2 separate regions of the Homo sapiens genome follow, and region 2 is linked to region 1. Evidence: fine-mapped expression QTL. A gene starts in region 1. The other region holds a variant in brackets. All regions are shown on one strand. Distances are between the middles of the regions.

What was found. PIP is the estimated chance that this variant, and not a neighbour inherited with it, causes the effect.
Region 2: its variant is fine-mapped to the expression of TBXAS1 in whole blood (INTERVAL, PIP 0.97).

Annotation. Positions count from the first base shown.
Region 1 is chr7:139,826,511-139,831,889 of GRCh38, forward strand. TBXAS1 (thromboxane A synthase 1) reads left to right here and starts at 2,754. Exons shown (of 13, transcript NM_001061.7): 1 at 2,754-2,969. The coding sequence starts at 2,881. RefSeq lists an enhancer at 2,427-3,626.
Region 2 is chr7:139,945,441-139,950,819 of GRCh38, forward strand. All of the region lies in intron 5 of TBXAS1 (thromboxane A synthase 1), which reads left to right. LOC105375532 (a long non-coding RNA gene) reads left to right here. Exons shown (of 2, transcript XR_928043.3): 2 at 1-1,707. Among named protein-coding and RNA genes, the nearest start is that of PARP12, 110 kb to the right of the region's middle. The variant C/T (reference allele first, on the strand shown) is at 2,578.

The DNA.
Region 1 (5,379 bases):
CACTATCTTATTTGTGGCTGTAACTCATCTCTTCCCCTGGATTTAAATACCAAATTTATGTTGATGGCTTCCACGTTTGAATATAATCTTTCGAGGAAGAGCATGGGCTTTAGAGTCATACAGCCCATGCCTCAGTTTCTTCCTCTGTAACTTGGGGCTAACCATAAGATTTACCCGCTAGGTGTGTGTATGAGGATTAAATGAGTTGACACATAGGAAAGCTCCTAGAATAACTAGTGTGTAGTAAGCACTCAAATGACATGATCATGATCAATTGTTATTATTCATATTTTCAGCCATCAGTGCTCTCTGGCTCGACACCTCCACTCAGATGTCTCCAGGGCATCTCAGGCTTAACAAAACTGAATCAGAATTCTTGATTTTCCCAACAATACCTCACCTTTCCCAGACTCCCTGTTTCAATGAATGGCACCTGATATACCTGTAGCTCAAGTTTGGAACCTGAGGGTCAGGTGTGGTCCTCCTTTCCCCTTCCCTTTCATATGCACCCCACCAGGAACTTCTGCAGAGCATGAACCCACCCCCAAAATATATTTCAAGTCCATCTACTTCTTCCCACCTCCCTCTCTCCTCTAGCCAAGCATCCCTTCTCTCTGGGTGAAGGCAGCAGCCTTCTGTGTGCCCTCCCTGTCTTTTCTCTCACTCCTTTCCAGGGAATCTGCACCTGTGACCACAGCCTTCTGTAACAAATGTACCTGTGACCATCCTAAGACCTGTGGGGGCACAGAAAAGGAAGCCCATAGCTACCCCTGCTGGCTTTTGGTGTCCATTTGCATGAAGTGTCTTTTTCCACCCCTTTACTTTAAGTTTACATGAGTCCTTATGTGTCAGGTGAGTCTCCTGAAGGCAGCAGATAGTTAGTTGGTGAGTTCTTATCCATTCTGCAGTTCTGTATCTTTTAAGTGCAGCATTTAGGCCATTTACATTCAGTGTTAATATTGAAATGTGAGGTACCATTGCATTCATCGGGCTCTTTGTTGCCTGTGTACTTCTTTGTTTGTTTTTTGCTTTTGTTTTTTAACTTGTATTTTTGTTTTATAGGTCCTGTGTGATTTATGCTTTAAAGAGGTTCTGTTTTGATGTGTTTCCAGGATTTGTTTCAAGATTTAGAACTCCTTTTACCAGTTCTTGTAGTGGTGGCTTGGTAATGACGAATTCTCTCAGGATTTGTTTGTCTGAAAATGACTGTATCTTTCCTTCATATATGGTGCTTAGTTTCACTGGATACAAAATTCTTGGCTGATAATTGGTTTGTTGAGGAGCCGGAAGACAGGGCCCCAATCCCTTCCAGCTTGTAGGTTTTCTGCTGAGAAATCTGCTGTTCATCTGATTGGTTTTCCTTTACAGGTTACCTGGTTCTTCTGTCTCACAGCTCTTAAGATTCTTTCCTTTGTCTCAACTCTGGATAACCTGATGACAATGTGCTGAGGCAAAGATCTTTTTACAATGAATTTCCCATGTGTTCTTTGTACTTCTTGTATTTGGATGTCTAGGTCTCTAGATGGCTGCAGAAGTTTTCCTTGATTCTTCCCCCAAATATGTTTTCCAAGCTTTTAGAATTCTCTTCTTCCTCAGGAACACCAATTATTCTTAGGTTTGGTCATTTAACATAATCCCAGACTTCTTGGAGGCTTTGTTCATATTTTCTTATTCTTTTTTCTTTGTCTTTGTTGAATTGGGTTAATTTGAAGACCTTGTCTTTGAGCTCTGATTTTCTTTCTTCTACTTGTTCAATTCTATTGCTGAGACTTTCCAGAGCATTTCACATTTCTAAAAGTGTGTCCAAAGTTTCCTGAATTTTCAATTATTTTTTCTTTAAGCTATTTCATTGAATATTTCTCCCATTCAATATTGGGGGATTGTGTTGGGAGAGGAGGGTCTCCCTTTCCCACTTCCGCAAATGGGGCACTCACAGTATTTGGAGTGTCTTCTGGGTCCTGCAGGAGCAGTCTGGTTCCTTCAGAGAGTCTGTGGGTCCTTTTGGGATTGCTGGTTTTTTCTTGCAGTTGATCTGGAGCTAAAATTCACCATGGAAGCCTCCAGATGCTGCTCTGTCTGAAGCTGCAATCTAGTCCTGCCACCCAGCCACTATGATCCCCTCCATCTCTCTGTCCACTTTAGTCAGATAAGCTCAAAGCTAGAACAAAGGACCCATATATGAGCCTACGGATCTGCCTTCAAACACTTGAGAAGCCCTCCAACTCACCATGAGAACACTGACCCCAATCGGGATCTTTGCTTTGCTCCAACAGCCAGACACTCAGACAGGTCCTCAGACCCAGCAACTAATGGACTTGGTGGGATGGTTGTCCTCAAAGCAGCCAGCATTTTGATCAGGCTGGCGTCTGGTCCTGTATTTTTCTGGGATATTCAGAATCTCTTGACATGTATCTTCACTTAATTGTGAATTTAAAAAATTATAGATGGATGTAGATATAGATATAGATATAGACATAGAGATAGATATAGATAGACATTTTGGAGAAGAGTCTCTCTTTGAAGACTTCCTCTCAGAGTACAAGTCCGTGGTTACAACCATTTTGTTTCTCAGCAAACATGGGGAAGTTTGCTTTTCTTCTCTGAGGAAGTTAATATAAATGTTTATTGACAGTGCAGTCATCAAGGAATAAAGTTGCTGATTCATTCCTTTACACTGAAACCCTTTGTTGTGCCCTCCTCTTCCTTCCTCTTTATAGGGAGACACTCTGAGAAAGAGCACATTGTGGGGGCCCACTCCATGTGATGTTTGCTTGGTTGCCTGTTCCCTTTTCTACCTGCAGAGCACGGTTCCCATAAGGGCGGCGAGATCAGCCTCCTGTCTCATCTGGAAGACCACCACTCTGGGGTCTCAGAGGAATGATGGAAGCCTTGGGGTTTCTAAAATTGGAAGTGAATGGCCCCATGGTGACGGTGGCCCTGTCAGTGGCTCTCTTGGCCCTCCTGAAATGGTAAGTGCAGCCAGCCCTAGGGACTGTGACAGCGTCAGCCGTCTCACCCTGGAGCCTTGCTGGTGCCATGGCGGGGTATGTGGGAGTGTGTTTTTCTTCTTTTCTAATCTAGCGGGAGTGAGTATTAACACAGCTTCAGAATTAAAAGCAAACAGCCAGGTTAATCTTTTGCTAAAATGCATGAGATTGAAGTGTCAGGAAAGGCTGGTGATTCAGTGACTGAGAACGCTACACATAATTAAGTTTGAAAGAGATGGAAAAAGAAACAAATTGGAAAGGCATTAGGTTTGGGTAGAAGCATTTCCTTGAACCCCGTCATATCTCCTCACCTCATTTTTCTAAAATCCTCTGTCCTTGTTGGATTTACAGTGAATTCAGCCTCTTGGTTCATATTACATTCAAAACAAAACAAGACGTAGGAGCTGTTTGGCAAATGTGGGCCTCTTTGCAGGAAGTCATTGAGGGGGATTTCTGTAGGGTTAAGGACAAAGTGGTAGATCTAATTTCTCATAGTTGATAGAGGGAGATGGATTCTGATGAACATAGTGTGTGCAGCTCCTACAAAATTTGAGACCCTGAAAGGATCTCAAACTTGAACTCCGAGTTGCTCCCCTGTGGTTTTGTTAATTCAACAGCAAATTTTCCTAAGGCTGACTCTGGTGTCTGTAGGTCGAAGGCCTCATAATATGCTACATTTATGCATATTCGCCCTGTCAGTTAAACTTATTAGAGTTACCCATTCAATCAAAAGCACCTGGATTTAGATGGCTCTGGCTTTTGAGGGCAAAGTGAGTGGAAAAAATAATGGAGGACTGGAGTCCGAACAGAATTTTAATTTATGTTTTCAGTAGTAATAAAGCCTTCTCTAGATTAATAACTGGGAAAGCACTTTGAAAAGCATCAAGCATTATGCAAATGTGAGGTATTATTCTTTTGGAATTTGCATAGCTGAGAGTGGAATTCACGTTTGATGTTCTATGATGATGAAATTACTTCTTGGAAATTGGCTCTGAAACCCAGCCTCAGTCCCAGTGCTGTTTTTCTTTTTAACTGGTTTAATTTTTTTTTTGAACTTTTTTATCTCATTGTAGCTTACCTTGGATTGAAACTGGCCACATGTAAAACCAAGAGCAAATGGTAGCTCCTTCCCTACCCCCAGCCCCCAATAATCCATCTCAATGTGTTTTTATGCTCCGGGAAGCCCGAAGCACAGTGTCTGACATGCAGAAAGTGCTTAGTCGATGTCAGCCACTATAATTAACCATCTATCATCTATGTAACCTAAAAGAAAATAAGTCTTTAGTGGTTTAGGTTTATTTTTAATTTCTTACTAATGTGCTTATTCATATTAATCTCATCAATAGCTATGCTCTGACTGTGGTTCTCAAAGCGGACACTTTTTTACACTTTTGTTTCAGTCTTTGTTGTGTCTGAGCCTCCAGCTCAGTGCCTGCCATGTAGGAACACCACACCATTCAGCAGGGCAGCTATGTGTTTGCTGTCTATTCTTGGGCCATATTAATAACCTGGTTCAAAGATGCAGAGATTAAGATAAATGTACCAAGCAGAAGTGGTAAACAGGAAGTGAGAGCTGACTTCTATTTGTTATTGCAAAAATATTTATTAACCTGTTAATGTGTGCCCAGTCTGGAGGAGGCCCTGGTACAAGGTCAGGAAGCAGGAGATCTGGAGAAGGTGCCCAAGGCAGGGGAGACACAGAGGTTCTGGGGGTGAGCTGGATGTCTAGAGAGGATACTGCAGGAGGAGCAGAGGCAGCAGGAGAGAGGTCACGGCCCTGGCTCTGGTGCTTTTGGGTCCATCCCTTGATTCAGTGCAAGGGGAACCACCCTTGGGCTTTCAACCCTTCTGTTCCGGGTGAGACTCTAGTCAGCCACTAAGCAACAGCCACCAGCTTGAATGAGGCAAGGCCCCCTTCCTGCTTCATTGTCTTGAAAGGATATGTGTGGAAGAGACAGGGGTGCTTTTCCTCCAGTGAGAGGATTCACAGGCAAGGAAAGATGGAGGTGTAGAGACACTTGCAGGAGAAACTGGCAGGGGGAGTGGATTAAACATTGCAGCACATTAGTCTTTGCTTTAAGTGTTACATGTGCCATCCAGCCAGGTGAGATGGCAGCAGAGAACCTAAACCCTGAGAAGGTGAAATCAAATGGGCTGGGCGCGGTGGCTCATGCCTATAATCCCAGCACTTTGGGAGGCCAAGGCAGACAGATCACTTGAGGTCAGAAGTTCGAGACCAGCCTGGCCAACATGGTGAAACTCCATCTCTACTAAAAATACAAAAATTAGCTGGGCATGGCAGCAGGTGTCTGTAATCCCAGCTACTTGGGAGGCTGAGGCAGGAGAATCGCTTCAACCTGGGAGGCACAGGCTGCAGTGATCTGAGATCATG
Region 2 (5,379 bases), 120 kb after region 1:
ATTCATGCTAAGAGACAGTGCCTCAATCTGTTCATGTTTCTTGGGTACCTTCTATGTCAAGGCTCTCAAGGAACATTTGATCAATCAGTCATCACACAGGTATTTCTAGAAAATCAACAGAATGGGGTGTGCTATGCTCATTCTTGATATAACAAATACCAAAAACTTCATTAATCCATGACAACATGCAATAGTTACCACAAAAGAGCAATATTGAGAGTGTATTAGTTATCTATTGCTGTGTAACAAAATTACCCCAAAACTTAGTGGCTTAAAACAAACTTTTGTTAGCTCATTGTTTCTGTGGGTCAGGAATCCTGGCATGGCTTAGCTGAGTGCAAAGGCTGAGTCCAGAGGGACTGAGGGCTGAGGCCAGAGGGATCAAGGTGTCTTGGAGTAGTAGTCAAATGGCTGGCCTGATCTGTGGTCTCATCTGAAGGCTTGACTGGGGGAAGATCTGCTTCTAAGCCTCATCACACGGTTATTAGCAGGATTCAATTCGTAATGGACTTTGGAAGATAAGAATCTTGTACTGTGTCCTTCAGTCAGTGGGGATCTACAAATGTTTCAGCAAAGCATTACTGAAATAACAAGTATTTTTGGAAGATCTGGCCAGGCATGGTGGCTCATGCCTGTAATCCCAGAACTTCAAGAGGCCAAGGTGGGAGGATCGTTTGAACCCAGGAGTTCAAGACCAACTTGGGCAACATAGGGAGACCCCGTTTCTACAAAACATTAAAAAAATTAGCCAGCTGTGGTTGTGTGTGTCTGTAGTCCCAGATATTAATACTTGAGGGGCTGAAATGGGAGGATGGTTTGAGCCCAGGAGGGCAAGGATGCAGTGAGCTGTAATCATGCCACTGCACTCCAGCCTGGGTGACAGAATGAGATCCTGTCTCAAAAGAAAAGAAAAGAGGCCAGGAAGCTCTTTCAAAGAACTTTCTTTAGTACACCTGGGTGTCAGGCACTATCAAAGTCCTAAGACTACAAAGATGCTTAGGCTATAGTCTTTTTTCTCAAGAAGGAAGATGACAACCATATTCCAGGTGACAAGTAGCAACACCTGAACTAGGAGGTGACTGAGGAGATAAATATGAAAGAACAGATGAAAGAAAGGAAGCAATGTTAACATGATGAGGCAAGAACAGATGGCTCCAATGGGGAGTTGTCCCTGAGGAACAAGAAAAGAGAAGAGAATGATTCCAGTAGTCCAAACCAGCCTGGGAGGACGGATCCCTCCAGAGGACAACTACCATGTTTACACCACTCCCTGCTTTCTGTGCCAAGTGTTTTGCATATTTTGTTTCTAATCTTTGTCACGACTCTTCAAGGGAGGTATTATTTTCATTTTTGCAGATGAGGAACTAGACTCAGTGAGGTTAGGCAATGTACCCAAGATCACACAGCTATAAAGTGCCAGGGGAAGGAAACCTACTAATTTGCAGTGCCTTTGAGTATTTGCTATGCTTGGGGCAAGTATTCTCCAACAAGGTCGGAATCTTACACTCAAGGAAGGAAACTCAGTGATGAGATTCTGTGAGTCACCCAAAAGGAGAGGAGAAGAAGACCTTTGAGCAGAAGCTCTCAGCCCTTCTTGGTCGTTACTCTCTTTGCCCACTCATCAGGCCCTCCCTCCTTTTAGAATTCACTCTGTTGCCCTCTGTCTGCACCTTGACTCAAAATTTCACAGACACAGTTGGTAGAAAATCCATTAAAAAAAAAACTGGTGCCCATCAATGACAGACTGGATAAAGAAAATGTGGTACATATATGGCATGGAATACTATGCAGCCATAAAAAGGGACTAGATTATGTCCTTTGCAGGGACATGGATGGAGCTGGAGGCCATTATCCTCAGCTAACTAACACAGGAACAGAAAACCGAACACCACATGTTCTCACTTACAAGTGGGAGCTGAACAATGAGAACACATGCGCATAAGGAGGAGAACAACACACACTGAGGCCTGTTGGGGGAGGGGGGAGGAAGAGCATCAGGATAAATAGCTAATGCCTAATACCTAGGTGATGGGTTGATAGGTGCGGCAAACCACCATGGCATATATTTACCTATGTAACAAACCTGCATGTCCTGCACATGTATCCCAAAACTTAAAATAAAATAAAATTTTAAAAAACTGGGTACTTTAATTACATAAGAATCTCCAGGTTATGCAGAACCTTCCTTCCTTGGGGAATTTGCTTCCCAGGGTGGGGATGGTGATTTCCCCTGAATGGTTACCACTGGTTGCCAGACAGCTGCTCAGCCTCACACTCGGCATCACCTGTGTAGGGACAACCAATGTGAGAGGCGAGAGGAACAAAATGGGAAACTTTCTCCCCTAGCTTGGCTACTGCACTGCAACCCCGGTCTTAGCTTGGGCTGTCATAACCAAACACCATTGAGTGTGTGGCTTAAACAACAGACTTTTTTTTTTTTTTGAGATGGAGTCTTGCTCTGTCACCCAGGCTGGAGTGCAGTGGCGTGATCTTGGCTCACTGCAACCTCCACCTCCCAAGTTCAAGTGATTCTCTGGCCTCAGCCTCCCGAGTAGCTGGGATTGCTGGCACGGGCCA[C/T]CACACCTGGCTAATTTTTGTATTTTTAGTAGAGAGGGGGTTTCACCATGTTGACCAGGCTAGTCTTGAACTCCTGACATCAAGTGATCCACCTGCCTTGGCCTCCCAAAGTGCTGAGATTACAGGAGTGAGCCACTGTGCCAGGCCCAGACATGTATTTTCTCACAGTTTTGGAGGCTGGGTGCCAGCGTTGTTGGTTTCCAGGGAGGCCTCTCTTTCTGGTTTGTGGGTAGCCGCCATCTTGCTCTGTGCCCACAAGACCTGTTCTTTGTGCATGAGAGAGAGAGAGAGGGAGAGAGAATAAGCATGAGTGCTCTGGTGTCTCTTCTTATAAGGACACCAATCCTATTGGATCAGGGCCCCATCCTTGTGACTTTAACCTTAATTACTTCCTTAGAAGCCCTATCTCCAAATACAGCTACACTGGGAGTTGGGGCTTCAATGTATGAATTTTGAGGCAACCCAAACATTCAGTCTATAAGAACTCCCAATAAATCACTTTTTTTAAACCTAATAACATTAATATTTTATCTGATTATAAGTGTAATACATGTGCATTGTGAAAAATTTGGAATAAAACAAAAAATAAAAATTACTCATTATCCCATGAAGAAGATGAAATGTAACAACCGAATGCATCTTTTAGTAAGATCTGAGTGAGAATAGCATTGTGTATTCATCTGTGCATGTGTGTGTGTGTGCACATGCCACGTTTGCCTGCTTGTTCAAAAATCTAGGAGAAGAACTGCGGGGTTTGTGGATTGTATAAAGATTATGCAAGCCCATCAAAGACAGCTTTTGTTTGTATGCAACTCATGTAAAAGTAAATATTCCGTAACTGCTGTGTAAAATGCAAGGAAGAAAACCTGAAATGATGGCTATTGGCCAACATACAGATTATGCTCGGCTGTCTTATAATATTTTCTCTGCATTGCTTTTTAAAACATTTTTCATATTACATGCCCCATCTCATATCACATTAACCCAAATAAAAATGTCATTATCCATTCAGTTCGACAGACAGCAAGCAGAGTATCGCAGAAAATTACAATCACGTCAGGCAGCAACAAAGGATTCTAGTCAAAAGCACGTAGAAGACCCGATGGTGGGCAGCTGGCCTGGGCTTTCTTTCACACTGTCCAGGAATATGTTTGGATTCAGAATGGGTGGCCCCCTCTTTATACACAGGGCATGCCTCTGAAGAGTTGTGTGTAAATCACATTTTATGTTCCATCTCTTTTGTTATGTTAAGAAAGCTTCAAGCTAGATATCTAAAAAGACTTCCTTTCAAACAGTACATATATATATGTAGATAGATAGACAGATTTTCTTTTACCATGTTACTATTCCTCTGAAGTAAATTTAAAAGGTATTTAGGTTTATGGGATTTTATTAAACTAGGATTCAGTTGTACCACTAAACTTATTAAGATAATCGAAGGAAGATAGCCAGTAAAGCTAGTTATAAAAATGTGGCTTAGACTGTACTGACTTTTCCAATGTTAAGGGTAGACTGAGACTTCTTGGAAGTTGGGGCCTAGAGACCATTTTAAGTGACCCATTGGCACACCCTTTTGTACTGATGGATTATTAAATCGATGGTTTGTGAGAATTTAGAAAAGCATACAGTAGTCATGAAGCATCAACACAGAGATACTAAGAATAAATCAGGATAGTCATACTTATTTTTCTTTTTTGAGTGGACTTCCAGATAGGTAGATGAGGTAAATCACATTTCTGTTTCTACAAATCATTTGACAAAGTCTTCCCCAGCTGACTCATCAGTAAAGCGGTGCCTGGCTGAGTATTTACTTAGGTTCATGCACAGATAGCCCAAGATCCAAAAACAGTGATGATGAATGATTCTGCGGCTACCTAAACCAGCTGTCCAGTGGAGGGGCACAAGGCTCTGCACCAGGGCCTGCCTACAGACCAATGAACTGAAGGGAGGCTTAGAAGGCACACTTACTACATTGCAGATAGAACGAAGAAAGAATAGCCCAGTGTTGCAGGTGATGGGATTTTTTTTTTTTTTTTTTTTTTTTTGAGACGGAGTCTCTCTCTGTCATTCCAGTGATGCATTCTTGGCTCACTGCAACCTCCACCTCCCAGGTTCAAGCGATTCTCCTGCCTCAGCCTCCGAGTAGCTGGGATTACAGGTGCCTGCCACCACGCCCAGCTAATTTTTATATTTTTAGTAGAGAGGGGGTTCACTCTGCTGGCCCGCCAGGCTGGTTTTGAACTCCTGACTTCAAGTGATCCGCCTGCCTTGGCCTCCGAAAGTGCTGGGATTATAGACCTGAGCCACCACGCCTGGCCAGGTAATGGGATTTTAATGAGTGAGTACATCTTTTGCTCCCCCACAGTGTTCAAACACCCCAGTGCTCTAAGCCCTGTGGCTTTATGAACAGCAAATCTATTTTCCCAAGATGGCTCTCCCTCCATGAGCCTTGGCAACAGGGCACTCATGAGTCTCAGATGCTCTGCTATCTCTCCACTTGGGTGTGTTATGCTGTGAACATTCTGCTCCTTGAGCTGTTGTTCAGCCGTCCATAGCGCTGTCCAGGCCATTGTCCCTGCCTTGGTTACCACCTCCACGTGGCAGCCTTCATGGAGCCATTGCAGCTTTGATCTACAGGACTCCCTCACCCTCCATCTACGGGACCCCCTCGCCCTCCATCTACGGGACCCCCTCGCCCTCCATCTACGGGACCCCCTCGCCCTCCATCTACGGGACCCCCTCGCCCTCCATCTACGGGACCCCCTCGCCCTCCATCTACGGGACCCCCTCGCCTTCCATCTA